Linked DNA regions of Homo sapiens. Each later gene encodes a partner of the first gene's protein in a complex. Each region holds a gene or a part of one and is shown on either strand. Other genes may lie near its edges.

The links.
Region 2: STK26 (region 1) and STRN4 share a complex: the UniProt entries of both Homo sapiens proteins name them as parts of the core of STRIPAK complex.

The regions. Positions count from the first base shown.
Region 1 is NC_000023.11:132,048,861-132,061,301, reverse strand, and holds part of STK26 (serine/threonine-protein kinase 26), read right to left. Parts: intron 7,580-12,441; exon of another isoform or gene 7,521-7,579; intron 6,672-7,520; coding exon 6,441-6,671; intron 1-6,440. UniProt on the Homo sapiens protein: Serine/threonine-protein kinase that acts as a mediator of cell growth. Modulates apoptosis. In association with STK24 negatively regulates Golgi reorientation in polarized cell migration upon RHO activation.
Region 2 is NC_000019.10:46,719,526-46,731,966, reverse strand, and holds part of STRN4 (striatin-4), read left to right. Parts: intron 1-1,093; coding exon 1,094-1,235; intron 1,236-3,189; coding exon 3,190-3,349; intron 3,350-3,959; coding exon 3,960-4,073; intron 4,074-4,275; coding exon of another isoform or gene 4,276-4,420; coding exon 4,421-4,515; intron 4,516-6,318; coding exon 6,319-6,494; intron 6,495-6,587; coding exon 6,588-6,635; intron 6,636-7,038; coding exon 7,039-7,160; intron 7,161-8,682; coding exon 8,683-8,853; intron 8,854-9,016; coding exon 9,017-9,157; intron 9,158-9,626; coding exon 9,627-9,725; intron 9,726-9,894; coding exon 9,895-9,981; intron 9,982-11,195; coding exon 11,196-11,365; 3' UTR 11,366-11,431; intron 11,432-11,628; 3' UTR 11,629-12,441. UniProt on the Homo sapiens protein: Calmodulin-binding scaffolding protein which is the center of the striatin-interacting phosphatase and kinase (STRIPAK) complexes.

The DNA.
Region 1 (12,441 bases):
TGGTTCTTACAATGGTGGATAGGTTAAAAATTGTTTCTTCTGCCACAAGTTTGTTTCTAACAAGTACTATACTCTATCATATGAATTCAGAGAGCTTCCCATTCACCTGACATTTAAAAGAAAAAGATCTTATAAAACATGCCTGCCTATTTTGCAGTTCTGCATGAATGAAAGCACCTGTTTTCCAAGTTAAAAACAATGTGTGCCTTTTTGTTTGTACTAATTCAAAACAGAAACTTGCCAACTGTCTGTCAGTAAAACGTGTTCATAGAAAGCTTGAAATGTGACTTTACAAAGTAGTATATACCATTAAGCATTAAAATTACAACTACTCAATTTCTAGATCTGAAAATAAGGAATCCTTATTTGTTCTGGAAATCAGTGGTGGTGAGGGCTGCACAACACGCCTGTAATCCTGGTATTTTGGGAGGCCGAGGTGGGAGGATCGCTTGAGTCCAGGAGTCTGAGAGCAGTCTAGGCAACATAGGGAGTCCTCATCTCTACAAAAAGTGCAAAAAAGTAGCCAGGTGTGGTGGCATATGCCTGTAGTCCCAGCTACTCGGGAGGCTGAGGTGGGAGGATCAATTGAACCTGGGAGGTGGAGGCTGCAGTGGGCCAAGACTGCGCCACTGTACTCCAGCTCGGGAGACAGAGTGAGACCCTGTCACAAAAAAAAAGCAAAACAAAAAAACAAAACAAAAAAAAAACCACCCAAAAAACAAACAAACAAAAAAAACACAAAATCAATGTGAATGTAGCCAATGCCAGAGAGCTGTACACTTAAAATGGCAAATTTAGTGTTAAGTATATTTTGCCTGATTAAAAAAAACATACAGCACATAAGACTTTATAAAACTGGAAGTGACAGTAGAGATCATCTTGCCAAGAATATGGCTAGAAAATTTACCACTTCTGAGTCATTTTCCTCCAGCTTGGAATGCTGTGTCCCTACCCCACTTGCACCTTCCAACCCCTATCAAAATCATTCTCAAGACTTAGTTCAAATGCTACCTCCCTAGTTTGAGGGTTATTGCACTTGATGTACTCACAGATAAGCAGGCTATTAATATGAAGCAAGTTATAAACACATATCTGGGGCTGAGCAGAGAGGATGAAACCAGAGACATCAGTTTAGAAGTTGTCAGACGAAAGTAGATGAGATTAACCACAATATGCAAAAGAAGAGGAATACACATAGTAGGCATTAATAAATAAGCGTCTGTTGAATTGAATCTAACATGGGGCTTCTTAGAGGTGTATTATATTAAGTTTAAAGCTATTCCTATTTTGAGAAAAGAACATTTTAAGAAGGAACAAACTTTCTAGCCTCCATTTTCTTCAAGTTTTATAAGAGAACTCCAAAACAAATGTTAACAATAAAAGAATATTCCAGAGGCATTGAGCATACATAAACTGGCTGTAAGCACATACAGTTTCAGTGAAAAATAAGGAGAAGGCCACAAAGCCGTACAGATGATTCTGAAATATTTTACTTCATTCAATTCTTTTTTTTTTCATAAATACTGGTGATGGTGGGTGGGAGGCAATATTTCCTTAACATACACAGAAATCTAAAGGCAATTTTCAGCAGCAAATAAAGGCATGATTCAAATTCTATTCAATGCCTGAGTGTCATTTTAAGATTTACACTGAACTAGAAAAATATTTAAAGATTATAAAAGATTATTCCAATATTATGAGATCAGAAGGGAAGGGTTTGCTTATTTTAGCACTCTTCATAAAGACTAACTTTGTCAAGAAAATCTGCCCAGTGAACTAAAATTAAAGGAAAACACTGTGGTCATACTGATGTGTTTGTCTGGTTTTTAACTCTTGTTTTCAAAAATGAAGTTATACAGTGAGCTTAGTCAAAATGAATACCTAGTACATTTTTTGCATGTCTCAAGGAAATCACTACAACTGCATACAGTTTCAAAGAACATATAATTTTCTCTCAAATGTAATAAACTTTTCCTCCAGCTTACAGTGAGGTCTTAGTTATGGATGACATCCTGTGTAAGAACAACCCATTTCCCAGTTTGCTCAATTAACTTGACTCACAAAATCCTCCATGTCACCTGAAATGGAACAATGGGCCACAATAAGTATGTAAGTTGACTGATAACACAGTTCCCTGATGGCACAAAGAGGATGTGGCCTTGACTTATGTTGACTACATGAAACAGAATCCTGTTATATTTGACGTGATTTTAGTTTAGAAAAAAATACAAACCCACACAGTCATACTATGTTGTAATATAAATGGAAAATAAATGAGTTGGTCAATTTAAGAAAGTGATTTAAATACATGGTATGAAAACGTTGTAAGATTATAGAATATTTCTTTCTCTGTGTGTATATACATATGTCTCAAGACATATGTATATACACACAGATTTATTTACTTTAAATAGATTCAGAACACAAATAATCAACATAAGCCAGCTGCACATTTCTACAATTTTATCATGAAGCAACATGTTCTTCAAAGTAGTGTTTTATATCATAGAGTTTAGTTAATGATGGGTGAAGGAGATAAAAATAATTTGATTTAATCCCTTAAGAAGCTATCTTGGACGATGGTTTTGTAGCACTGGCTGGTCTGAGTACACTTTACAATCAAAATTTGGGACAAACAAAAAACTAGTTTTTAATTATTTAAAGATTAAGTAAATACTGGGTGACTAGTACATGTATACTACTGTGCAACTTAAAAAACACTCTATATGAAATCTTAGGAAAAGAAGATAGAGCTGTCACTCATTTTCCATGGGAGTATTGAATATGAATAAATAAGCAACCAATAAAATTGTCAAACCATATCAGTACCAATTTTCAATATATTATGGAATAGCCATTTTAAATAGGGCGTATTTAATATTTTAGGTCAGCAACCAAAAATAGTGTTTTTGTCACAGGTGCCTAAAAGTAGCAAGGATTCAGTTTTGCCCTAGAGTGAGTCTGGAAATACCGGGATTCAGTCCAGAAAGAGTAAACCAGAATGAGCAAATGATACACACACAGACACACACACACACACACACACATACACACACACGCACACACACACATGTACCACCAAGGAATTGTATGGGAATTAGGAGGAGAACCTAAAACTACTGAGACTGCGTAATCACTCATGAGATCTCTAAAAAAGAATATGATGGGCTGAATTAGCTTTTTAGGAACAAATATGACAGCAAAATTATCACACAAAGGAGCAAATAATTATGTATGTAGTAAAATACAGTAATAGCTAACACTTAGATGTAAATGCTGAAATTGGATAGAAATTACTAGCATTATCACCTCCTTTTGGAGGCCTTTTATTCATGCCACTCCTGAAAAGGACAGAAGTGACTACTTACTAATTTGTGCATCATCTATACCTTGTACATACTTTAACCATAAAATTGGCATCATTTCAGTGCAAAACTGGACTGTGAGTGCCTTGACAGCAGTAGTGAGTTTGTTCACTTTTATATCTTCAGCACCTAATACAGTGTGTAATATATAGTGGCTGTTTGGCTGCTTAATGATTCATTCTACTATGCATTCATACCACATACATCCAATATTAGAATAAGTCGGGTTTTGTAAACAGGCAGTGAAATTTGTGATAAATTTCTATATCAGTATTAACCAATATAGATACAGATAGATGGAAAGCGATGACAAAGTCACCAAGACGGCAGAGGAGATACCAGTTTTAATCATCCCCTCCCTCCACATATACATAAAAAGCCCCCAAATATAGACAGCTATCCACAAACCCAAGTAACTCTGGAAGGATTCAAGGGCCTATTTAACAATCTGCAGCAACACAGTGGAGCAAAAAAGAAAGAATAACTCCACAGGAAGGATCACTGAGGAGATCAGCATACCTGAGAGGCCAGGAAATGTCTAGGAACAAAGATGAAAGGTGGAGGCTATTGGTATCACTACACAGTAGAAGCCATCATGGTCCCCAGTGGCCTGCTCTGCAGAGGACACTGGCATCTCTTGCTACTGAGGTAGTCAACAGCCATTTCTGCCAGGGAACCCCAAGAGGAATACATGACTACAAAACTCTCTCATCTCAAGAAGAAGACATTGTTGAGCCACATGGAGAAAGAAGCCACCACTCTGAAAACTGATGCAGCTCCAGACCTCTGAGTCATGGCCACTCCACTAGTGCCCACACTCCAGACCCAGATTCTGCGTCTTCACTGAGCTCAACCATACCTCAGACATTGGAGCCACTGCCACAGTGAGCTAGCTCACACCCCAGGGCCCCGGAGCCAAGGTTTCTCTGAGTGTGCCTATGCTCCAGACATCCACACAGTCACCACTGAAAGCTAGCCTGTGTTCTGGACTCCAGACCAGCTGAGTGGTTGCACTGGACCCACCCACAGCTCAGACACTTGAGCTAATCACTGCCATAGTGAGCTAGCTCACATCCCAGGCTCTGGAGACAAGGTCCCTCTGAGCGTGCCTATGCTCCAGACATCAGCTCAGATGTTACAAATAGCTAGGCCCTACGCCACCCTCAGAGCCACTGTAGCTCTGTGCAGCAGTAGGGGGTATTTGTACCTAGGACGTTGGTATTACTATTGGCTTGGGCCCCAGAGCATGTCCCTCCAGATATGCCTATGCTTGAAGCCTTAGTTCTGTGGCCACTCCATGGGCATCACTCATTAGACACTAGTGCCACCTCAAGTGGGCCCACAAGCAGACCCAATGCCAAAAGGGATCTACTCGGCTATGATTTCTCTGGTGGAAGAAAAAGAGACTGGGGGGACCCTAGCAGCTCTTGCCACCAAAGACCTCAAACAGCCCTCACCACTGTTGTAGACAACCAAGGTATTGACCACTGAGGATCCCTGCAATCTTTGTCAACACTAATCTCAAGTGACAAAGCTGCACAGGAACTATACTCCTATGCCCTCATTGGAGCCAGAACCACTGCAACCCACCCAGCCATTGCTCTCACACTGTCCTACAGAGGAAGAAGGTCTTTTCACACTGAAACCTGTAATGTCTGGAAGAGGCGATTGCTCTATCAACTGCAGAGACATCAACATAAGGCAATAATAAACATGAAAAACCAAGGAGACATCTCACCACCAAAAGAACACAGTAGTTTCCCAGTAGCTGACTCCAAATAAATGGAGATTTATAAACTGCCTGACAAATAATTTAAAATAATTGTGTCAAGGAAGCTCAGCAAACTTCGAGAAAATACAAAGAAACAAGTGAAATCAGGAAAACAATAAATGAACAAAATGATAAATTTAACAAGTAGATTAAATCATTTTAAAAACTCAGAAATTTCAAAGCTGAAAAATACAATGAATGAAATGAAACAATACAATAAAGTGTCAATAGCAGAACTGATCAAACAGAAGAAAGAATCTGTGAACTTGAAGACAGGTTATTTCGTAAAGGTATAGATGGATATCCGAAGTTTTATTTGGTCAGCAGAGGATAAAATGATAGCATTAATTTTTACGCAGGCCAACAGCTTAATTAGTTATAGATACGCTCTTTTTGGCCTATAGATCAACCAGTAACAACAAACACTTCCCTCCTTTTAAACCCTGAATGGCAAAGATCTAGCACAGCCTTCATTTGAAAAACTGCAATACAAGGATAAACAATTTTAATTTTAAAATGATTCAAACTCCAAACTAAGCTAGAGTTCATGGGGGCTTTTCTTCAACTATTTATTATTCACATTTCAACAGACACGAATCCTGACTTCTAACTCTGGAACCCAAGGACCACTGGGTTTTACCAACCAGTTTTCTGCTATGTAGTAACACCTCCATCTGCTGGAACTTCAGGTGTCTGCTAATCCCATGATCCTGGAACCAGTAAAAATCCAACTTTTATTTGGAGGGGGAGGCAGATGTTATTCCACTTAATTCCATTTTAACAAATATTTACCACATGCTTAAGATGTACCATACCCTGTGCTAAGGAATGTAAGTACCAGGACTGGTTAAGCTAAACTCCCTGCTATGAAGGAGCTCACAACCTGGTGGGGGAGAGAAATGTGTAAATAACTACCATAACTCAATGAAATAAGTGACATACTTACATGTTCCATCAGCTCTGAGGTTGAGACAGTTAAGACCATTGAGAATAGTGTCTGGAAACCCAGGGGGATAGCTCTTTCCTGACAAAGGAGATGTCTCCAGGACCAGCTGCATTTCTGCTCCTCCATCAAACCAAAAGTTCAGGTGTGGAAAAGGGGTGCAGCTGAGTACTGGGATGCATTCAGAATACAGCTGCTAAATCTAACAACGGTTTATTTGGCACTATAAATGGAGCTGGATTCTGCCTGGAAGCCATAGACTGCCAAATCCTAATTTAAGACATTGCCTTTCAAAAAAATAGAATTAAAAAACTTCTAATGAAAATACCTTATGACTTAAATAATACAGCACACACATTACCTTTAAATATGACCCATAGTATTTTGTTACATATGAGCTGTCACATTGACTCAAGACAGTTATTTCTTGCTGAATGTCTTCTATTTCATCTTCGGCTTCCTCAAGGTCTATGATTTTAATAGCAACGACTTGCTGGGTACGGTTATCAATTCCTTTGAAAACTTCCCCAAATGAGCCTTTCCCAATGCGCTCTAATTTTGTGAACAGTTCTTCTGGATCAGCTATGTTATTCTGAAGGGAGTGGGGAACGAGAAAAAGAAAGAACACAAATGTTTTGAATCAAATTTTTTTAATGAAGGAAAATAAATCACATAAGACAATAACACATTTTTGTAAAAGCATACAAACTCCTCTGACTCCCCACATGTGCTTTGTTAGAACAACTGTAATCCCAAACAGGCAGCTAGTCCATATTCTAGTGAATCATACACACTAACTGAGCTTAGCTGATCCTGCTATCACAAACATTCTCACACAGCAAATATATCCAGTGCATGCCAAAACATCAGGCACTTTTTGGAATAAAGCCGCTGATTATACACAGTTTACACATTAATGCAAATGTAGCAATAGTGGGAGAATATCTAACCTAAGCTAAGGTGAACTGTTTAAGTTTCTAACATTCTGCCAATATTACCTTTTAACACTCCTCTCTCTCCAACTCGGATATCCCAATCATCTTAGCTACACTTCCAAACCGCCATCTAAATAACACAGACCACAAAAGACTCCAGGCTTTACAGGTCTTTGTTTTTCATTAGTTGGAATCTTATCTATATGTAATCTTATCATCAATAGCTGAACTAAGATTCTATACCTTTGTAATAATTGCTAGTAATCATGAGAAAATGGTAACACATTGAACTTTTCACAACTCATGTCACAGTGAAGATCCAGAATAATTTAACACTTCACTACAATAAAATCTGGAATAAGCATAGGCTTTCAAGGTTAACAAATGTATAGGCATGACGTAGATTTATAAATTCACTGTTGTTTCCTGATTCAGAAATATTCTGTATCTTATAATATACAATTTTGAATTAAAATTTTACCCCAAGACAAACTTTATATACTTACTTAAATTCATCTTGCTGAAAATATACTGCTGATCAAGTAGAAACTCAAGATTGCCAACCCTGCCAAAAGCACATTAAGTGCTTTATTAATCAAAAACTTTGAGTTCCTTCAAAATATAAGAGGATTCTATCAAGTTCTGGTGAGCTATCATGTCTAATTTGTTAACTGGACCTAGAATAGCTGTTCATTTACTACAGTTTTACTTAGTTTCACTTCATCATCAATTTCAGAAGACAATTATGGAGTTAGCATGTCCCTTTTATCTTCCTTTATTAGACAAAGAGGGCATTGAAAATATTGCTTTTCTCTTATCAAGTTCATTGCACCATGATCACCAAATGGACACACTACTACTCCAGTAAACCACTACCTTTTGAGGTAACTCCAAAACTCATGACTGCTTTTAAAGAATTTCACCAAGTTCTCTTTTTACACAGCCTAAAATACAGTTTGTACATGACCTGTTTACCTTATAAGCTTCCCCATTCTCTCTGATTGGATTTTTTTCCATTTCTAAAAGTTGTGCTTTCCATATAGAAGTCTCTGAGACTGCAAGCTACTTGTGTATCCCCACCCACCTCCAGTACCCACATGGAACAAACACATCTTGAGCTTTCCATATGGGCTTTTAAAAATAGCTTAGGCTTCCAGTAGGTTGCAAATGCATTTTTAATGCCCATATTTGGTTATAATACCTTCTCAAAAACTTGAGTGCCATCATTATTGATTTCCTTGGTGTCCTCTTTTACCAAGACATTGTATTTCATTGTGACTACTAATACATAGTGGCTAACCCACAGTTACCTCTTCCTACTTTTGGTGATGGTCCTTGGCTTTGTAATACCTTGTGGAAAAAATACTTACTACATAGCTTGGTGATGGGTTCACCTCCTTATAACTTCCTTTAGAAAAAAATATTTCTGTTTTCCTGATACAGTTATAAAACAATTCTAAAATTTGGGAATGTATCATTTATTTGAAGATACATAGGATATATCTTCTGATAAGACATTCTGGGAAGTGTATGTATTCATTAACTTTATAACAAGAATCTTCTGTTGTTAAAGAACAAAAATGAACACTTAAACTTCCTAATTAGTGTTTTAAAAGGATTTGATTCAAACAGTCAACCTCAGGGAGGATATGGCTGTTCCTTGCTTCCTACAATAAATGGGTTCTTGCAAATATGTAAATCAAAAATTTTAAAACGAGGTCACATTTTGCATTTTAAAGAAGCACTGAAGTAAACTCTAATCCATGGATATAGTTTAAGATTTTAAATTGAGGAATAGCAAGTTAGACACAGAAAAAGAGAAAGATCCATCATTTATACAATGTTTGCACTTCCTACTCTTTTATTTTGCATCTAACAATGCTCCTACAAAACACCAACTTTCAGAGTGGAGGGAACTATGAAAACAAGATTTCACTAATATAACCTCACTTCCCTAACTAGCTAAGGGATAGAGACCCCTGCCCCATTTACTAATCTTGAATCCCTGATAGATAATACAAAAGTTATAATTTCCCCTTCATCATTTTAAACCAAAGTATCCTAAGTCTTTATTAAGACAGGTTTCCTTCCTGCTTTTAGCACAAGAGAAAAGATCAAGTAAATAAATAGCAAGCATCCCAAGGAATGCAATTAAAAGCCACCTAAACAAAGAATCTAGTTTGCCTAATCATTCCCATCATTCTTTGGAACCTCTAAGAAAAGTCAGCTCCCTCTCCATCCAAATCAAATATTCTTTTAAGAATACTGAAATTCCAACCCAAATGCCCATCAATGACAGACTGAATAAAGAAAATGTGGCACATATACACCATGGAATACTATGCAGCCATAAAAAAGGATGAGTGCATGTCCTTTTCAAGGACATGGATGAAACTGGAAACCATCATTCTCAGCAAAGTAACACAAGAAGAGAAAACCAAACACTGCATGTTCTCACTCATAAGTGGGAGTTGAACAATGAGAACACATGGAAACAGGGAGGGGAACATCATACACCAGGGCCTGCCAGGGGGTGGGGGCTTGGGGGGGATAGTATTAGCAGAAATACCTAATATAAATGATGAGTTGATGGGTGCAGCAAACCAACATGGCACATGTATACCTATGTAACAAACCTGCACGTTGTGCACGTGTACCCCAGAACTTAAAGTATAATAATAAAAAAATACTGAAATGGCTAAATATTCCTTACCTCTACTGCAAAAATCACAATTTATTACTCTATCTGCATTTGTATTGCCTTCTCAAAGCTGCCCCAAAAAAAGAGCTCTATGTTCTGTAGTGTCAAATAGGAGGAACTGCTAAATTAAGCTCATATTGACTTATTAATGACAGATGATTTCCGCGTGCCATACCAAAACAGGGCTACGAAAATGAAAACCTCAAAGATCCACCTCCTCAGGGCAATCAGATTATTCCTTGGCCCTGTTTTATCTGTTATTTAACTTGAATTTGCACTCTTCAACTATAAGTACACTGTTAGAAATTTAAGTCTTATTCAGAAGGTATCATTACCACTAAAACAACAATAACAACAACAACTATTTAGTATGGAAATACTCTGAAGAAGTCCAAAAGGAAACAATGTTAGGTGAACATCTTGCTTGTCTCCTGTGCAAAGTAAGGAGCAGATAGAAGAAGCCTTCTTGGATACTTAAACCACAGAAACAGACAGCTGAAAGAACTCTTACAAGTTCTCTAGGTGCTCTCCAATCCTGGCTATAAATTAGAACTACCTATATCACTTTTAAAATGTGGATACCTAGGCTTTACCCCAAAACTACTGATTCAGCCTACTGAGACTGGGGCCTTGCAACCAATACTTCTGAAAAAGCACCCCAAATGATTCCTGTGTAGTCATTTGAACACTAGTCTCGACATCAGCACTTGGGAACCACTAAGCAGATGGATGTGAAATTTGTATCCTTGATTACAGGGAACCCATTATCCTTATTTTTCCCAGGCAAGCATATGGGTCTCATCTAATTCTGTACATTAAAAGTGGACAAGTTGGAGATTAAAGTAAAACTAAGAGGACTTTGGCATTTACTATACATACCTATATTTTTAAAAATGAAGTCTGCAATACTTCTTCTAAGGATATGTCTCTAAAATTAGCACTGGTGACCCTTGAACAACATGGGTTTTAACTGTATAGGTTCACTTACACACGAATTTATTTTCAACCAAACACAGATCAAAGATACAATATTTCCAGAATGTGAAACCCATGTATAGGGAAGGCTGACTTTTCATATATGTGGGTTCCGCAGGGTCGACTGCATGACTTGAGTATGCACCAATTTTGGTATACACAGCAGAAGAAGGTATCCTGGAATCCCGAGGGATGACTCAAGATTAGAAACATAATGTTTGTCAAAACACAAGCAACATATCCCGTACACTTTGTATACATATTCTTAAACATTGTTTATACCCAATATAGTCTATGTATTGTCGATAGGGCCTATAATAGGTTAAGATGTGACTGATGACAGAGTTTTGAGGATAACAGCCAACATTGATGAAGGATAAAATTTTAGATCTAGTTAGTAGAAAATGGGTCAACTTGTGGAGGGGGGCATTAGGAATTGGTGGCCAGGAGAAACAAGAACATTGAAGACGGATTTAGAATTAGTCTTGGAGTTCTCGCAGAATGGGGACCTAGAGAGCAAAATGTGGGAAAGAACCAAGGTAAAGAATCTAGTTCTTTGAATTTGAACTACCTAACTAAGACCCCCAGTAAGACTCTGGGACTGAGAGTGAAAACATAATAGATGTAAGGAAGAGGAGGCAGATTTCTCACAGGATTTGACCTGGAAGGATTCAACTCACGTATCCTAAAAGAATCTTCCAGAACTAAGAACCAAGCTGAGTAAGGTTGAATTGTTTTGCACCTGCCTTCCTACATTAATAAAGCCCATACTATGAATGCTGTAGCTATAAAATAACTTTTTGCACTTTACAAAGACTGGCCTGTATATAGGCCTATCAGTGACTCATTGATGAGGAGGAGTGTTACAGGAAATAATGAGCAAATAATGTGCTAATGATATCAAGGCTTAAAAGAAGATTTCTTACTTCCTTGAAGTCCTCAAGTGGGAACACCAGGAGTGACTTGCAGTGAATACAAAGTGCCCTGACAATCACAGAGAGCAACTAAAAACTTCAGCCTAACAATGTACTAAACTAGAGATATTTAGCTACCTGTTTAAATTGATCAAATCAGTTCTCCCAGGCTAGAGACGAAATGTTTTTCTGGATTACTTCCATGTATATACAGTTTCCTGTCATCTAAGAAGCAGAATGCATATAAATAAAAGTCATTCTCTAGTTGGTTTATGAGCCTCAAATTAAATTACTGTTCTATTATGATTGCCTGTGTTAAGATTTTTCACTTGCCCTTATGAACATTGCCTAAAATGTTTGCTGAATGTTTCCTAATCAAGATATCATTTTTTTAAAAAAAAGGAGATTTAGGCCAGGTGCAGTTGGCTCATGCCTATAATCCCAGCACTTTGGGAGGCTGAGACAGGTGGATCATTTGAGCTCAGCTGAGTCCAAGACAAGCCTGGGCAACAGGGTGAAACCCTATCTCTACTAAAAAAGAAATACAAAAAATTAGCCAGGCATGGTGGCACGTGCCTGTAGTCCCAGCTACTCAGCACACTGAGGTGGGAGGACCACCTGAGCCTAGAAGGGCGAGGCTACAGTGAGCCATGATCACACCACTGCACTCCAGCCTGGGCAACACAGTGAGAGCCTTTCTCAAAACAAAACAAAACAAACAAACAAACAAAAAACAGAATTTTAATGTCAACAGCCGTATAACTCTTACCAGTGCTGAGTTCGAGAAAACAGGACACTATCTTTTTTAAGTGCCAGATATAATCCATATACAATTGG
Region 2 (12,441 bases), on another chromosome or scaffold:
CCATGTGGAGAAGCAGAGCTCGTCTGGAGCTGCGGGGCATTTGGCCCCTAAACATAGGTCTAGTTGAACAAGCACATGGGCATTCTTTGGAAAGCCATGGCCGTCTGCAGTGCCTGCAGGAGTGAGTGTAGATGACGCAGAGAAGAGATCTGGGGACTGCCCGGGTGCTCTCCCACTTAGAGGCTGGAGGGAGGAACAGGAGGAGGAAGCTGAGAAAGAGGCTGAGCCTGTGCGGCGTGTCAGTGTCGTTGTGGGAGGAAGGCCGGTGAGAATGGAGTCCTGTGTCCCGCTGCAAGTGCAGCGAGTGTTCTGAGGATGGAGTGGAGCTCTGGTGATGGCAGCCGTGAGGCGAGAGGGTACATCTGCAGTGACCTCTGCACCCGTTGGTAACTGGCAGTTGACAAGACCTCCAGGGCATCAACCTGATGGCAGAAAGGGGGGACGTTTTCGTCGATCTGCACTTGGAATTGCACCCTGCCTTCTCCCGCAGTCAGGCTGGGTCAGTACCTCCTCTGCTATAACTTGTCATGAAGTTGGAAGCCAGGAGGTGGAAGGAGGAGTGCCATCTGTTGCTGGGGATAGTGCAGGCTCCTGGGTAGCAGGGATCGCCGGCGCCCCTGCTTGCGCGAGGCTGGCTGGCTTTCGGCGCCTCCCAGAGCATTTGTAGAATGGCCGGTTCCTCTTTCCTGCAGGGCGTGTTTGCCTCCTGCCTGACCTGCCCTTGTGGTCTGACTGGGCTGTGGGAATGGGGACTGCTGAGTCAGTGGCACTTTCTCATCCAGCTTTCCTTCTGACTCAGCACAGGATGGAGATTTGTGACCAGGGTTGGGGGCTGGCCCTCTGAAACTCAGGTCGGCGGTCATTGAGGAGCTGGGCCCCGTTTGCGGTCTGAGTGAGGCTTCCAGTTGGAATGAGCATTTGTTGGGCAGAGGCTGGGGTTGGGGCTCTGTGTGTGACCAGAGTCAAGGCTGCTCAGGGGTTAGGGGGTTAGCTGGGTCTGGGCTCTGGCCACCAAGCCTGGGAGGGCACCTTCCTATCTGAGCTTTGACACCTGCCAGGACTCATGCCTCCTCTGCTCTGCTGTCTTTGGCAGGAACGCGGCAGGCAAAGATGGCAAAGAGCGCTTGGGCGGCTCAGTGCTGGGGCAGATCCCCTTCCTGCAGAACTGCGAGGACGAAGACAGCGACGAGGACGATGAGCTGGACAGCGTGCAGCACAAGAAGCAGCGTGTGAAGGTGAGCCCTTCCTCCATGCCCTGCACAGCCTGGCCTGGGTGTGACCTGATCGAAGCCCTTCCGAGTCAGCCTGGGCCTTCAGGGGCTGCGGTGTGTGCTGGCAGCAGGGATATGGAGACACACAGGCCCTGGCCTGGAGGAGCTTGTGGCCAGCAGCGGCCTTGTAAATAGTCATGTGCAGAAGGACGCGTTGTGGTGGAGGCAGGGGCATGTGCCTATGAAGGAGGCACCTGTGGCAGATGGCCTCGGAGCTTTCCCTGAGCCCCGGGCTTCCCATTAGCGGGTCCCTTTGCCTAGGTCCCCTTTCTTTCCTCCTTTAGACTCAGCTCAGACACCCCCTCCTCCAGGAAGCCTTCTCTGACTCACCCTGGGCTCCCTTCCCTGGCCCTGGCCACTCTGGGGTCCTCCCTGTCTGGTCTGTATTCCTCCTGACCTCTCCCTGGGAGGGACTGGGCCTGTGTGGGCCTCCACTGCATCTCCAGTATCCCCAGTGTGGCTCAGCACAGAGTCGCACCCCAAGTAGAGTGGTGTGCACGGAGCCGCAGCACTGCAGGAGGCCTAGAGGAAGAGCAGGAGGGCTGAGTCCAGGGTCTCAAATGCTGGCCCCTGGTCCAGACGCTTGGTCCTTCCCACCCCTCTGAGAATTTCTAGTCCTTTTCCACCCCTCCACCCATTCCATCAGGAATCATCCGTGGTGTTTGCACCCCTTCGGGCCCACACCCTTGGGCTGGCTGGTTGGGTAGGGCTCTCTGTCTCTACGCAGCAGCCCTCCATCGAGGCCCAGCTGGGAACCCAGGGGACTGCCCATGGCTCCCAGGGGGCCCTGGCCCAGCTGCGTGAGTTCTGGCCCACACTTCTTTGTCTTGGCTTCAGTCTCCTCACCCTTTAGATGGGGCTGAGTCCCTCCGTCTGAGTTGTTGAGGATTTAATTAGAATGAGCTGGTGCCCAGGAAGCCCTCAGCTGCATGGTGGCTGTCCCCCAAGTGCTCAGTAGGTGTTAGTGGCGCTGGTGGCACTTGGTAGTGGTGGAGCCCTCATGGTTCCAGGCACTGTTGGCAGAGCACAATTGCCACTCGTGTGCCCCTCAGAGCACCTGTGGTGGTTCTCTCCTCTGGAGTCCTGAGCCCGGCCGCTGCCTTTCTGGGCATGCTGTCTAAACCCTCCCCTTCCCCATTCTTTGCACAAGTGTTGAATAAACCTTGGCCCTAGGTCTTCTCCATGCCCCTTCCCTCTGGTCCCCCCCATGCAGGTCAGAGGCTGGCCCCTCACTGGTGCCCGAGAGGTGTCGCCAAACTCAGCCTGGGGGGCTGACATGTGGAAGGGGTCAGCCACGCCCTGGAGGAGTTCACAGTGGGCAGAGCTTGGCCTTGGTGACCTAGGGCAAGTGGGTTCCTGCTGCTCAGCCTGTCTCCTGGCCTGTAATGTGGGAATGATAATGACAGTGTTCACGGTAGCTGTTCGCAGGGTTGGGGGTTAAGTGAAGTCGTGTCTGCGAGGGGTAGTCAGTGGTCATTCAGTGAGTGGAATTTGCTCTTGTGCCAGCACGGCTGCTGGTGCTGTGTTTATCGCTGCAATGCTGTGGTCCATTCATCCTCACTTGTTTGCACCTCCGTATATTCACACACGGACACCAGTGCATATCTGCCCTCCCTGCAGGCAGATTGTTGCATTATCTGACTTTTCTTCATCCGAGGCACCTTGCTGGGGGACTGGAGCAGGCTGAGCCCTGGCTAGGGGAAGGACTGCGTGAGGGTGGGGTCAGGCCGACCGGCCCTAGTGGTAGCAGCTGTCCAAGGCCCAGCAGGGGGCGCTCCAGGGCAGCTGGCTGGCGGCTGAGGCAGCCCCATGAACAGAAACGGGCCCAGAGCCCCGGCTTACCTGTTCCTAGGCACGGAGGTGGCTTAGTCTCTGGACAAGAGGCCCCCTGACTTGTCTGGCTTTCTCCATGTGCCAGCTCCCATCCAAGGCTCTGGTGCCCGAAATGGAAGACGAGGATGAGGAAGACGACTCTGAGGATGCTATCAATGAGTTTGATTTCCTGGGCTCAGGAGAGGATGGGGAAGGGGCTCCAGACCCTCGGCGGTGCACTGTGGATGGGAGCCCCCATGAGCTGGGTGAGCTGACGTTTTCTGGCCAGCCCCCGCTTGCCTTCCCCACCGAGGGGGTGGGAGCAGGCTCAGCTGCCCGCAGCTGCTTCCTGTACAGGGTCTCTCTACCGGACGGATATGTTTCCTGAGAGGAGGGTAGCCAAGGAGAGCAGGAGGCCCAGGTCATGGCCGCCGGCCCCTCACCCCTTCCCTGGAAAATCCCCATGGAGACGCAGGCAGTCCTGGCTCTTCCTGAAGTGGGGCCGCCAGCCCTCCAGGGCGGGCGTCCAGCTCTGGCTGGCCTCAAGGAGGGAACAGGATGAGGACCCAGTCGGGGAGAGGCAGGTGGGAGGGCCGCATCTTCCTCCCTGTCCTGTGACTCCTAGCTAGGAGGGCTCTCAGGATACGTGGGATGGGTGGCTGGGGCCTGAGGCCTAGGCAAGGCAGTGACCTGCCCACTGCCCCACGGAGGGGCCCAATCAACCTCCTCTCCTCTGCCCATTCCCCCCCTCCCCCAGGGCCAGAGCTTCACAGCCCCACAGAGTGGCAGGGGGCCCTCAGTGTGGGGAAGGCGTCACCTATGCCAGACTGGGTTGGAACTGCTGGGTGACTCCGGCCCTATGCCTCGACCCTGCAGAAAGCCGTCGGGTCAAACTCCAAGGCATTCTGGCTGACCTGCGGGATGTGGATGGGCTGCCCCCAAAAGTGACTGGCCCGCCTCCTGGCACACCCCAGCCCCGGCCACATGAAGGTAAGAGGCACCCCCCACCTGGTCCCAGTCCTGCGGGCCCATGGCAGAGGGAGGCTGCAGAGCTGAGCCCAGGGCTTCTGTGTCTTCAGGGTCGAGGCCCAGCCTCCAGTCTGCAGCCTCCCTGCCCCAAAAGTTCGTCTGTCTGTCTGTCTCCCTCTCTTTTTGTCTGTCCTGCCCTGTCTGTCTCTCTGTCTCTTTCCAGCTGTGATTCTTCATCTTGTCCTCTCCCCGTCTCTCTCTCTTGCTCTTTATCTCTTTCTCTGCCTCTCTCTGTCATTCTCTCTCTCCCTGGCCCTCTCTGCCCCTCCCTCCCCTCCCCCTACCAGGTTCCTTTGGCTTCTCCTCAGACGTCTTCATCATGGACACTATCGGGGGCGGGGAGGTGAGCCTGGGGGACTTGGCAGATCTCACCGTCACCAACGACAACGACCTCAGCTGCGATGTAAGTTCTCCGGGTGCCCCCCACACTGTCCCCATTGGCATTGCGCCCAGGGCCAGCCCCTGCAAGCTCTGACTGGGTGCCGCCCGTGCCCTGCTCATCCTGTTTCACAGAGGGGTGCAGATGTAGACAGTGGAGGGACTTGACTGCGGTCGCCAAGGCGCAGGGCCTGGAAGACTCTGGAGCCTGTGTTTTAATCACAGTTCCACGGCTCCTCCACTCTGCCCCTCCCACCCTGGTGATTTGGAATGCAGGAAGATGACCTGTAGCCACCCCCTGCTCTGCCAAGTCAGGCCAATCTAGTGTGAATGGGCAGCTGGGCTGAAATGAAATGTTCCGGGCCTCAGTGGACGGGCCTCTGGCCATCTGGGAGCCTTTGGCCAGCTGGGAGCCTTTGGCCAGCTGGGAGCTTTTGGTGTGGGTGTATGTGCACATTTTACTGTGACAGAATGGGATTTCCAGTGTTGGTGACCCTAGTAAGGCTGGGTGGGGACTGCTGTGAGATTCAGGAAGGGGGGTCAGAGCAGAGGCCTGAGAAGTGGAGTGTGCCATGGGGTCCCTCTGCACGCCCCAAGATGTCATTTCATCTTGGGGAAGTGCAGTGTTCTGAGCCCCGCTAGGGGAGGGGGTGAGTGAACCACACAGTAGCAGATCCTCTGACCCTAAAGAACTGTGGCAGAAGGGACAGCTAAGGCAGGGACGTCAGCTGGGAGCCCATCTTGGGGCATGGTGCTGAGGCTTGCCTGGTACTCTGCTCGTCATCTCTCCGGAACCTGGCCCTCTCCGGGTCCCCTGCTGGGTGAGCGGCACCAGGGCGCATGCAGCGTGGTGGACAGAGGCCCCCACAGCTCTCCCACTTGTGCACTGCCTCCCCTTCATGGTCACGTGTCTGGTCTCCATGCCCTCATCTCCCCTGGGACTTCCTGGCCTCTCAACCTCTTTCTCTGAGGCTACCTTTTTTTTTTTTTTTTGCTCCTTGAGGGGATCTCCCTATGTTACCCAGGCTGGTCTCGAACTCCTGGGGTCAAATGATCGTTCTGCCTTGGCCTCCCAAAGTTCTGGGATTACAGGCGTGAGCCACTGTGCCCCGTCTGTGGCTACTTTTACCTGCCCCTAATCTGAGCCTCTCAGGGGTGGCAGGAACAAGCCATGTCGTTCCCCTGCTCTAAACACTTCCCCGGCTCCTTGTTTCTCTGAGGCTTTTTCTTAGGATGAAATGCGCATTCCTCCGGGGCTCACCACCCAGCACCTGTCTCATCCCCTGCCACTCTCCTTGCCTCCTGCAGCCTGTACCACTGACCTCTCAGGCCTGGGCTCGCCCTTGCTGCCTCAGGGCCTCTGCACGGGCCCTTTCCCTCTCCAGGGCCCTCTCCTTATCTTGTGAAGTCCTGCTGGCTCGTGCTTCCTCAGGAAAGCCTCAGTGGCCCCCAGGGAGGAGGGCAGGCTGCCTGATGTCTCTCTGTGCATCTTTAATTCATTGCCCTGCTCATGGCTGATGATCCTGCACACTTGTGGGATGGTCCAGTTGTGTCCCCCATTCCCCTTCCTCTCAACTGCAAGACCCCAAGGGGTCAGGCTCACCTTTGTCTCTCCAGAACCCAGCGCAGTGTGGGGACTTGTTGGGCGAGCATGGAGACTCTGCCCAGCAGAGGAAGGGGAGAGTTCCCGGCTGGAGCCCAGGCTCTGAGGGCATTCCTGCCAGGGTCATGTGGGTGGAAGACAGGGGCCCTCAAGCCCTGGGTGTCGGTGTCTGCATGACTGCTGGGATGGATGCGAAGACACTGAGGCAGCTCCCCCCAACCCCAGCTGTCTGACAGCAAAGATGCTTTTAAGAAGACGTGGAACCCCAAGTTCACCCTGCGCTCGCACTACGACGGCATTCGTTCCCTGGCCTTCCACCACAGCCAGTCGGCTCTGCTCACCGCCTCCGAGGACGGCACGCTCAAGCTCTGGAACCTGCAGAAGGCGGTCACGGCCAAGAAGTGAGGGCAGCAAGCTCAGAGCCGGGGGCAGGGGCATCTGGGGACGGGGGTGACAGGGTCTCAGTGACATCAGGCTCCTCTGTCATCCCACAGGAATGCGGCGCTAGATGTGGAACCTATACATGCTTTCCGGGCTCACAGGTAGGGAGGTGCCCCTGAGCCTGCTAGAAACTCGTCCTAAATGCAGCCTGACTCCTGACCTGCTCACTGCCATCGCGGGAGGCCCACGGCAGGAGGCAGGACAGCAGGGGGCTCTGAGTCCCCGCCCCCTTCATGATATACACAGCCCTGGTTCTTGGGGCTCCATGCTGACTTTCACATGCCCTGGCAGCTGGTACTCAGCACAGCCCTTCAGGGGAGGAGATGGAGGTGGGGTGGGGGAGGGCAGGGGACAGGCAGCTTGTCCAGGTAGCATGGCCAGAGCCCCAGTCACTGAATTCCTTTTGGCCATCCTTGAAGAATGCTAGTAGGGAACTTAGGTCCTGTGGCCAGGGGAGGCCCTGAGCTTGTCTCATCCCCCTTTCCACATATTTGTCCCTTCCAGGGGCCCAGTGTTGGCTGTGGCTATGGGCAGCAACAGTGAATACTGCTACAGTGGCGGGGCAGATGCCTGCATCCATAGTTGGAAGATTCCAGACCTCAGCATGGATCCCTATGATGGCTACGGTGAGGACAACGCCTCCCGCCTTCCCCTCACATCCACTGGGGCCTGGCCGTCCCCTCCACGCACACACACGTCGCGTCCACCTCTTGCCAACACTGCAGGCCTCAGGAGTGCGTGTGACGGCTCCCCTGTCTGCTCTGTTGTGAGCAGCGCGATGCAGCGCGTGGCCAAGGGACGAGCCAGCCGGGATGGGAATGATGGCTGTGGGAGGAGGTGGTGAAGCTGCCTGAGAATCTCTGTGAGCCGGCGTCCAGAAGGCAGTGCTGAGGCAGCCCAGGCTGGGAGCAGCCCATGCACAGGCGTGGCTGGCCCTGGCAGCCTCTGCTCTGCCATGCCGTGTACTCTGTGTGTGGGGATCCGCCAGGGTCTCTGCGTGGTTGAGGGGAGGGCATGTCCAGAGAAAGCAGAGAAGGTGGAGTTAGCTGGGCCAGGCTGGAGCGCGTTGGGGCTTTCTCTTTGGAGCATCTAAGACCTAAGTAGGGAAGTGACCAGACTGTCACTTCTGTTCAACATCTGTCCCCCTGTTCTCTGCCTTTTTTTTTTTTTTTTTTTTTTTTTTGAGACAAAGAGTCTCACTCTGTCACCCAGGCTGGAATGCAGTGGCGTGATCTTGGCTTACTGCAACCTCTACCTCCTGGGTTCAAGTGATTCTCGTGCCTCAGCCTCCCGAGTAGCTGGGATTACAGGCACGCACCACCATATCCAGCTATTTTTTGTATTTTTGGTAGAGACAGGGTTGCACCACGTTGACCAGGCTGGTCTTGAACTCCGGACCTCAGGTGATCCACCCACCTTGGCCTCCCAAAGTGCTGGGATTGCAGGCATGAGCCACTGCGCCCGGCTCTGCCTCCTTGATCATGCACCTGGCCCTGTGCTCCACCTTGTCTGGGCAGAGTTCAGAGGTCTTTGTCTCCTCTCAAGGGGAGGACAGACTTTAGAGAACAGGCTCACCTGCACAAGGTCAGGATCGGTCCCAGCTACATTAGCCACCACACTTTCGGTGTCAGCAGGCCAGAGCTGCTGGTGTGGACTCCAGCAACCAGGGAAGCAGTGATTGGACCTCTGAATGACCAGGGGGCTTTGGAGAGACCAGGCAAAGCCCATGCACTTGGCCATGGGCTGAAAAGACTGCTCGGGCCAGGGTTGGGACCAACCCTTGTCCAGCACAGGCTGCGTGCCGCTCCTGGGGCCACAGAACCATGCTGTTCCTTCTTCCTTAATGGAGCCCGAAAAATTCTGTATTGAGCTCCCAGTTTCTGGGCCCTGCTTGGGGAGACAGCTGTGAATAGAGGGAAATCCCTGCCTTCTGGAGCCCTAGAACCTTCCTTGGAGAGCTAGTGGGCAGTGTGAGCAGCTGCCGGGCTGTCCTGGCAGTGGACAGTTCCGAGGGGCACCAGGTGTGAAGTGGGTGCGTGGGTGATTGGAGCCCAGCTGCCTGGGGCTTGGCAGAGCTGGGGCTCTGGGCTGTCCAGGGAGGAGCTGGCAGCCCTGACACAGCCCATTTCCTCCCTGCGGTGGGTGCAGACCCAAGCGTGCTGAGCCACGTCCTGGAGGGCCACGGGGACGCCGTGTGGGGCCTGGCCTTCAGTCCCACCTCCCAGCGCCTGGCCTCCTGTTCTGCTGATGGCACCGTCCGCATCTGGGACCCCAGCAGCAGCAGCCCGGCCTGCCTCTGCACCTTCCCCACAGCCAGCGGTGAGTGGGGGCCCCGGTGCCTCACCCTGGAGCTGTGCGGGATCTGGAGGCTATCAGAGTGGTTCCTGCTGAGGCCCCAGGCCTCCCACCCACTGTCCCCCACCCTGGGGCAGGGCTGGGTCTGAGGGTCCATTCAGCAGCCTTCTCTTCCCTGTGCCCTCAGAGCACGGGGTCCCCACCTCAGTGGCCTTCACCAGCACCGAGCCTGCCCACATCGTGGCCTCCTTCCGCTCTGGCGACACCGTCTTGTATGACATGGAGGTTGGCAGTGCCCTCCTCACGCTGGAGTCCCGGGGCAGCAGCGGTAAGGGGGCTGACATCAGCTCATGGAATTGGTCTCAGTGTCTTCTGGGCCCCACTTCCTCCTGGGGCTTTGGCGACCCCTTGTCAGTCAGCTCAGATGACTCCCCTGCACCCTCAGGCCCTGAGCAGGAAGGAAGTTGGGTCCCAGTGGAGGGCCCCCGGCCCTCACAGCCAGGGCACTGGCGGGGCTGAGTGGGGAGAGCGCGTCAGGGCCGCCCCGTCGGGCCCTCTTGGTAGAGTGGCGGAATGTGTTCATGTTTGTTATTCCTCTTCCCCCGCCCCAAAACAGGGCCCAGGGGCTGCTTGTGCAGAACCAGCGCTGCGGTCGGGGACCGGAGTGCCCTCGCCCAGCCCCCCTCGACATCCAGGCAGAGGCTGGTGTAGGGGCTGTCACGCTGCGCTTGTGCCTCTGTTCTGGTCTTCCTGATTTTCTGCTTGACATCCTTCCCTCTTCCTGCGTTTTCCTTCAGGTCCAACCCAGATCAACCAAGTGGTGAGTCATCCAAACCAGCCTCTCACCATCACCGCCCACGACGACAGGGGCATCCGCTTCCTGGACAATCGGACAGGTGAGGCCTAGCCCCTTGTGCTCGTAGTGGGTGGGGAGGGCCAGAGGCAGGCAGCAGAGATGCTTGCGTCCCTGTGGGAGGCTCTGGGAGTCTCTCGTCCAGTCCTTTCACTCTCTCAGGCGAGGCCCAGAGTGGGAGGGGAACCTGCCACCCGCCCTTCTCGCCTCAGGTAAGCCGGTGCACTCCATGGTTGCACACCTGGACGCAGTCACCTGCCTAGCCGTGGACCCCAACGGCGCATTCCTGATGTCAGGAAGTAAGTTGAGCACACTAGTCCCACCAGGGTTGGGGAGAAGGGGAGGAAGAGGCCTGGGCACTGGCTCCAGGCAAGTGCTCAGGGGGCCCCGGGGGCCAGGGCTGGGGGAGGCTGGTCTGGGCGGGAATGACCGTGGTGACCATAGGGGGCAGCACAGTCCGCTGGGGCCCTCCTCTGGGTCACTGGAGCTGCATCGTCTCATTCGGCCTCTAAGCAGCCTGTGCGGTTGGTACTTTGATCCCCAGTTTACAGATGTGGGCCCTGATGCCCAGACGCTTTGTAACTTGGCCATTGAAGCTCTGTAACATCAGTCCAGGTCTACCTGGGGGTACCCGTGGGACTTCTGTGCTCCCACCCTGTTGTCTCTGGATAAGGGCATTGAGGCCAGCAACGTGGCTGTGCTTAGAAGGGATGGAGTGTGACGTGGGTGGGTGGAGAAGGAGACTGGAGGTCGCTGTGGGGGTGAAGGGTGAGGCCTGCAGTGAGTGCAGCAGTGAGTGTGTGTGCACAGAGGCGCAGGCCGTGGTGTTGGAGGCTGTGGCTGGGCTCTGCCTCCGGGCCTGTGCTGGCAGCCTCTGGTGGGTGAGGGGCTGGTCAGTGAGCTCCAGCCCAGTGCCCAGACAGGGCTCTATTCTGGGGGCCACTAGACAGTGGAGGGAGCTGAGCCTTTGCCCTGCCTGATCCTCTTGACCCTAAATTAAACTTCTCCTCGCCAGGGCCCTGCCCAGCCTGCCGTCCTCTCCCCTCTTCTCCCCAAGTCCCTGCTAAGGCTCTTGTGGCCACCCCCACCTCCTGCCTCAGGACCTTTCCCGCCTGTCCTTCTGCCTGGAAGGCTCCCTGCATTCCTCCTGGGGCCATTCTGTCCTCACACTGACCGGCTGGGTTGCTTTCTTCTTTCTCTTCCTGTTGCCCAGCTGCAGCGTCAGTGCTGCGGGGCAGGGAGAGTTGCCTGTTTTGTTCACTGCCCCTGCCGCCCTGGGGCTCAGTGTGCAGTAGCTGCTCAAGAAATGCTGGGGGATGAGATGGACTGTGGACAGGAGGGGACCAGGGTTCTCCTTTGGGCGGGCCACAGGAGGTGATGAGCAGAGGGTGAGAGAGGAGAGTTGAGCCCCACTTCCCCTGAGGCCTTTGGACAAGGCCAGGTGAGGGGTTCCAGGGCTGCGTCTGAGCGAGGAGCCCAGTGACCACCCCTTCTGTCCCCGACACATGTGCAGGCCATGACTGCTCCCTGCGTCTCTGGAGCCTGGACAACAAAACGTGCGTGCAGGAGATCACGGCCCACCGCAAGAAGCACGAGGAGGCCATCCACGCTGTTGCCTGCCACCCCAGCAAGGCCCTCATTGCCAGTGCTGGCGCTGATGCCCTGGCCAAGGTCTTCGTATGATGCCCACCTGGCCCTGCCCTGGCCGCCACGCTGGCTGGGGTGTAGGGCCGGGCAGGTGGGGCTGAGGTGAGGGCAGAAACCCCGCATTCTGAGTCTCTGCACGCCCATGCCTAGTACTGCCAGGTGTGCTGAGCCCCGCAGTCCAGTCAGGGGCGTCCTGTGAGAATCACTGGGGGAGCCCTGGGCATGCAGGGGAGGGGTTGAGGCCTTAGAGGCGCCCTAGAGGCGGCGGCTCAGTCTCCCCTCCCTTCTCTTTCCCGCAGGGGACTCCCAGCCTCGCTGGAGGTGCAGAGGCCTGGCCTCTGTCTGTTTGCCATGGAGCCTGGTGGTGCTAACGGCCCTTTCCCCAGGAATCCCTCCCCAACGGCTGCCTTCCCCAAGCATCCAGCCTGGGGATGGGCCCCTTTCAGGAATCACCCCCGAGGATGGCCTCGGGGTTTCCCCCTGTGCCCTGACAGCCGCTCCTGGTATCAGAGCTGCTTTCCAGAGGGCAGCACAGCCAGGGCCGGGTGTCTTTAGGGATCAGTTTTTCCAAGACTCCAGAAGGTGCCAGGTTCTCCCCTTGAGCTCCTGCTCCCCCATCCCCCATCCTCCCAGACCTGGGCAGGAGCTGTGCTGGGAGAAAGGGTGGCAGCCGGGAGCCTCAGAGCTGAGCCCCGGCCTGGCTGCCCCTCCCCTCCGGCCCTCTCCACTGCTTTCCAGACACTAACCAAGGCTTCCAGGCCAGGGATTGCCCAACACTCCTAGGGCAGCCCTCCCAGCGCCCCATGGGGTCGCCCATGGGTAGAGACGGCTTTCTTGTGCCCCTCCCTGGGGCATGGAGGGTGGAGTGGGCCTCGGGTCCCCCTGAACTCCCTGTATATCTGTATAAATAACGGGATTTTCATGGCGCCGCCCCACCCGCATTATCACTGTGTGATGGTCTCAGTCAGTCTCCTCCCTGTCTCCACTCTTTCCCTCTATTTATTTCACTCTCTTGTTTGGTTCTACCCTGCACCCTCGGTCCCCTTCCAGGTTCCTGTTTATAAGCCCCAACCCCTCTGTCCCCATCTTGTATGTGAAAACTTGTCTCAATA